2 separate regions of the Homo sapiens genome follow, and region 2 is linked to region 1. Evidence: fine-mapped expression QTL. A gene starts in region 1. The other region holds a variant in brackets. All regions are shown on one strand. Distances are from middle to middle. Region 1 holds the start of SGMS1 (sphingomyelin synthase 1). Region 2 has its middle 31 kb from the start of SGMS1-AS1.

Region 1 (2,911 bases):
ATTCGCCACTTCCACATCCAGGGAGCCAACTAGAAACATCCCCAAACCTAAAAGCAAAATAACCTGTCCAAACAGCTTTAAAGGTCCAGGAAGATAAATGTCAAGGGAGCTAAAATAGTCGACAGGCCCCAGAACATAGAAAATAAACTTCCCTTTCAGAAAGCAGCCTTCACTTGGTTTCGTAAGCGTGTACCGCTGAAGTCTGTACTGTTTGAAGGTGAAAAGAAACATCTGAGAAGCACCTGCCTGGATTCTCTTCGCTCCCTCCGGCCATGACAACCCTTATCCCGATTTCTACTTCGCGGCACCAAAGAGGAAAGCAGCATTCACCAGAACGCTCCAGGCTGAATCCGTTAGCTGGACTAGGGCACTCTATCCGGCCCACGGGAGGACGCCACAAGCCCGAGTTCGGGTTAAGACGGTGGGAGAGGCAGCCGCTGCTGCTGCTGTTTTGCCCTTGACACGTCGCTGGGGGATAGCGCAGACCCCCTCTGTCACGGAAAAGCGGCGTCCTGGAGAGACTGTCCAGTTCTGGGCTGCGCCGATTCCCCTCCAGGCCTTGCCCCTAAACGTCCCCGCCCCGCGGGGGCAGCCCTGCGGGGTCTCAGAGCCGCCCGCGAGCCTGGCGGGCTGTTACGCGGCCTGGAGAGAAGGGGAGCGCTCCTCGGGGAGGGGGGGTCCCACCTGTTTTGTCGTCAGGGGGCATCGAGGGGCTACGGTGGGGGGATCCCGAAATAGTGGGCGCCTGGCCGGCTGCGATCTGGACCGAAGGTACCAACTGTCACACCGCCACCTAGGCTGTGGGGGTGGAGCCGTGATTGGAGTCGGCCCCTGGGTGGGGGTCTCCGGACCCCGGGCGGGCTACTGCCCAAAGGCTCCCCGCCTCCCGATCGCCCCAATCCGACACCAGGCAGCCTTCCAGCCCGCACGCAGTAGCTCTGAAAAGGTGCCCACTGACGCCTCCTCCTTCCTCCCCGCCCCAACTTAGCCGGGGAGCCCCGCCGGCGGCCCGCCCCCTCCGAGCCCGGATCCCGGCCGCCGGACCTCCCCGCTGTGACCACCCACGGGAGCAGCAGCTCTGGAGGACTGCCCGCCAGGTACGCGCGCGGCACCGCGCGGGCTGCGCTCACGCCCCCTCGCCCCAGAGCAGCCCGCCCGCTGCTCCCCGGCATAAGGCCGGGCCCGCGAGACAGGTGTCCGATCGGCCCCCGCAACCGTGAGGCCGGCTGTCTGTCCCTGCCCCACGACTCACTTGCACTGGAGTCACGGCAGCCGCCGGAATTCCGCTCGCGGAGCCCCCGCCGCGGAATGAAATCCGGGGCAGGGCAGCGTCGGGGCTCCGCACCCCAATCGCGCTCTCCGACCGGCTCCCTAGGCGCGAGGGGAGAGCAGTCAGCCCAGGCCGGTCCTTCTCACTCCCGACCTGCCCGCCGCCTGCCGCCCGCAGCCGCTGCCCCGCTGGTGCGAACGCTTTCGACTTGCCACCGCGAGCCTCCCGGGCTGCCGAGCATGCCCAGTCCGCTGCCCGAGCCGGCCCGGCTTCCCGCGCGACGCGACTCCGCTCCTCCGGGTGTTCACTGCGGCCGGGGGGGCGGGCCGGCCGGGCGGGGTCCGCGGGGGGCTCCTCCCGGGACCGAGCGGGACCCCGAACCAAGGGACAGTCGCAGTTTGGGCCCCTTGAATTTTACTTTCAAGTAATGGGAAACTGAGGAGGCGGGCGCTTTCCCCAGCGTTTTTAGGGGCCCACTAAGTAAGGCCTAGCGGGAGCCAGATTTTACAATCTGGGACGGTAAATCCCTTGGGGCAGGGCCGGAGACGGGAGCCGCTAGAGCTGGTCACAAAGCAGGGAACGCAAACTCAGCCTGCTGGAAGCCAGGCACGAGTTTGCGAACTACTACTGGATTCTTTTTCCCACCAAGCCCAAGGGCTGCGACACTTGGGATTAATGCCCAATGGATCATTCCTAGGAAACGGCCGACCTGACTATTCGGCCCATTTTCAAACCTCTAACCATAGACTCTCATCTTTCTCCCACAACAGAAAAAAAAAGCCTCTGGCGACGCCTGGGAGCGCGACGGAGGCGCAAGAGCTCTAACCGCGCGAGGTGAAAACTCCGACTGCGTCAGAGCCGCCCCGCCCCGCCTGGGGCCCACCTTCCGCCGCCCCTCCGAGCTGCGGCGAAAACCCGGAGAGCGGCTAGGCCGGGGTCGGAGCCCGCGCATGCCCAGTAGCCCCACGTGGTGCAAGTCGCCTGAAGGAAGGTTTTCCTCTGCTCCCCGAGCGAAGCCCCAGCGCCCAAGTTAGGATGGACAGCGGGGAGAGCTGGCCTTCCCGCCCCGATGCCCGCCGTCCCTGGCCGGCCCGCGCCGCACCTCGGTGGCCTACAGGCAGCCCGAGGCCGTGCCTCCCGCGGGGTCGGGGACTTGGCGAGCGGGGGAAGGGGCGCGGCTACGGGCCCGGCGTACCACGTGACTGTCCGCGGCGCTCCGGGCAGCCATCTTCCGCCCGGCCATCGGGCCGCGGGCGCTCGGAACCGACCTGGGAGCTGGCGGGACCGTCCTCCCCCGCCACGCCCTCCCATCGGGCTTTGGGCGCCGGACTCTGGCCACCGCTCGGCACCTGCCTCCGCCTCGCCTTGGGGTATAGGAGTCCTGTACCGACCCCTGGCTTGCCCAGAGGACAGGTTCTCGCCCGGGCCAGAAGCAAACTGCGGCGAAATCGAGACAACAGAACTCAGGTGGCGGAGGGTCCCCGCTTTTCCCCAGAGGCGGAAGTTGGCGAGGGAGTCCTCTTCCGTTATCCAGCGAGAGCGCTGCTCTGGCTGCCTCCCGGTTCTAACCTAGTCCCTGCAGAGGAGTGATGTACCGGCAGGGACATTGGACAGAGGCCGTGCTCTTCCCTGCAGCGCATA
Region 2 (2,911 bases), 32 kb after region 1:
TCTCAACCTTCATACCTCTTGTCGATCAGCCACTGGCTGTGGGCCTCCAGCAGGGGCTGTGACCTCAGGCAAAGAGTCTATCTGCAACTAAGGCAGGGGCTGTGACCTCAGGCAAAGAGTCTATCTGCAACTAAGGCAATGCCCCAACGGAAGTGACCCAGAGAGCTATCATCTAGCAGCAAGGAAAGTAAGTCCTCAGGAGACTTGGTCTTTCCTAAAGGAGAATAAGTCTTTCCTGAAGAGACATCTGGGCAGTGCATCCCAGTGTTCCCTACCCTTATGTCATCTCACCTCCAGGAAGTACCATTACTTCCTCTGCCTAGTACACAACATATTTTATTTTTCATCTCACTCTCAATCTGGAAGTGATTCCAAACCCCAATTCCAAACACTAGAAGGATTAACCCCTCTTGCGACAAGCAGCCCCAGAAGAAGGTGCACAGACAGTGCTGAGCAGCACAGGGAGTAGTTGAGGAGAACACAGTGAAAGGAAAGCAGAACCTGTTCCATGGGGGTGAAGAACCAGAAGCCAAAATTTCACAGAGCATACGCATGAAAGACAAGATACCATGGATAGAGTGAACTTGGAATAGGTAGCAATGGAGACCTTCCCACAACTGCGAAATGATTGGCCAGGAGTCAATGACCTAGAATATAATAATCAAAAACCATGAATGACAGAAGAGAAAACCAGACCAGAAAATATATGAACAGAAACCATCCTCCTAGCCAAGCTAGTCTAAGGGCTTTCCCCAGTTTTCTTAAGAAAAAAAGAGAGAGAGAGAATTTTATAACTTTCCTTGTTCTACAAATGATTTGCTTTGGTAGATCCTTAGTGAGTAGGAAGAGAAAATGTATACCAGAACCCTCTTGCTTATCTGAAATGACTCCTGGTAAATATTGGACATAATACTCTTCCTACATCATTGACATAGATATCATATACACACATAGATATATATATCGGCATGTAGATATTTATATAGATATACATGTATAGATATCTGCATATATATATTTGTATACAGATATAGACATATAAATATTAATATACCTATATATGTATATAAATACATATACATATCTATATCTGTAGAAGATATCTACCATCTTCTATCTATATATCTTCTATCTTCTATCTATAGAACTATCTTAATTTAAAAACCTTTCATATATGCATATAAAAGGTAATCAAACACAAGCCAAATGAAAATTTGTTTAGCTATGTTAATATCAGACAAAAGAGATTTTAAGGCAGAAATTATTACCTGAAAGGAAGATGTATCCATCATCCATATAAAAGAATCAACTATTGAGGAAGTTGTCAAACTTGTGTATGTATATTCACTCACACAGAGTTAACACACATTTACAATTTTTATAGAACTAAAAGGAGCAATAGCCGCATCTTTGATCATAAAGACTTTAATATACCTTTTTCAATAACTGATAGCAAAAAGGATA[C/G]AAAATATCAATAATAATACAAAAATTTAAAGCAGTAGGATTAAATACTTTGATATAAAAACTGCACCCAAAAATAGCAAAACACACAATTTATTATAATGTATTTGGAACGTGTTTCAAAATTTACCATAGCTATCTATAGATATCTCTGTCTATCTAGGTAGATAGATGATAGATAGATAGATAGATAGGTAGGTAGATAGATAGATAGATAGGTTAGATAGACAGATATAGGCTGAGGTTAGGCCCATAACAAGAATCAATAAATACCAAAAATTTGAAATCCTTGACAGTGTTTTTTTGTACAACAATGTTATTAAGCTGCAAATCTATAGCAAGACTTTGAAAGTAACCAAATGTTTAGAAATTAAGCATCACATTTCTAAGTTATTCATGCATCAAAAAAGTAATTACAATGAATATTAAAATATATTTTGAATTTAATAAAAATGAAAGTAAAAATACTGCTTGTTAAAAGATGGGAGGCTTAGGCAAACCTCAGCTTGGAGATAAATGCATATGCTTGTTTAAAAAATTAAAGCTTGAAAATTAATAATCTAATTGTCAATCTCAAAAATTTAAAATGTGATGTCAAATTAAATCCAAAGAATTAGAAAAGAGAAGATACATAAGAAGCATGAGAAAAGGAAACAATCATAAAATAAATGAAATCAGCAAAAGCCAAAGTTACTTTGAAAAGACTGATAAAAATATACCATGATTATGCGTGAAATTAAAAAAAAAAAGAGTATCCACAAATTCTAAATATCATCAATAATAACAAGGAAATCATTATAGATTCTATAGTCATGGGATAGAAAAAGAGAATGTAATAAGTAACTTTAAGTCAAAAATTTTGACATAATTTGATGAAATAGATACATTTCTAGAAAATCATTAACAGTGACACAAGAATAAATAGCAAATCCGAATAGCTCTATATCTATTAAAAATAAAATTACAATTAAAGCTTTCCAAATATAGTGAGTCTAAATCAAATAAAATATTAAAAATCTGAAATGTTTCCAGGAAGAAACATTGAATTCCTAATATAAAATATAACATAGCATATGCAATCCCTTTACTGAAAATTGTGAGATTTTACTGAGAGAAATTAAAGATATTCAACAGAAATAAAGGTGTACCATGTTCCTATGTCATTCTTGGTATTAGAAGAAAGATTCAGTATTTTAAATAAATCTATATTTGTAATACACTGAAAATCACAATACTGTGATTAGTAATAGCATAATTTGTCTGCATTATATTTGGTGGCAACTGAAAAACTGACTATAAAATGCAAATGAAAATGCAGTGTATAGATAACTTTGAAGAAAAAATATAATGTGAAGACTTACACTATTAGATATAAAGTTTTTATAAATGTATATCAATTATGACATTATGGAAAAGGTGCAAGTATAGATATTTCAATGAAACAGAATAG

What was found. PIP is the estimated chance that this variant, and not a neighbour inherited with it, causes the effect. A credible set is the group of variants that fine-mapping cannot tell apart.
Region 2: its variant is the best candidate, but not a certain one, in a credible set for the expression of SGMS1 in whole blood (INTERVAL, PIP 0.69).

The regions. Positions count from the first base shown.
Region 1 is chr10:50,622,455-50,625,365 of GRCh38, forward strand. It overlaps SGMS1 (sphingomyelin synthase 1), which reads right to left and starts at 1,502. Exons shown (of 11, transcript NM_147156.4): 1 at 1,253-1,502. SGMS1-AS1 (SGMS1 antisense RNA 1) reads left to right here and starts at 2,497. Exons shown (of 4, transcript NR_126411.1): 1 at 2,497-2,737. RefSeq lists enhancers at 260-659, 1,371-1,899 and silencers at 850-1,189, 1,450-1,709, 1,758-1,915, 2,040-2,669.
Region 2 is chr10:50,654,428-50,657,338 of GRCh38, forward strand. No RefSeq gene overlaps it. Among named protein-coding and RNA genes, the nearest start is that of SGMS1-AS1, 31 kb to the left of the region's middle. The variant C/G (reference allele first, on the strand shown) is at 1,465.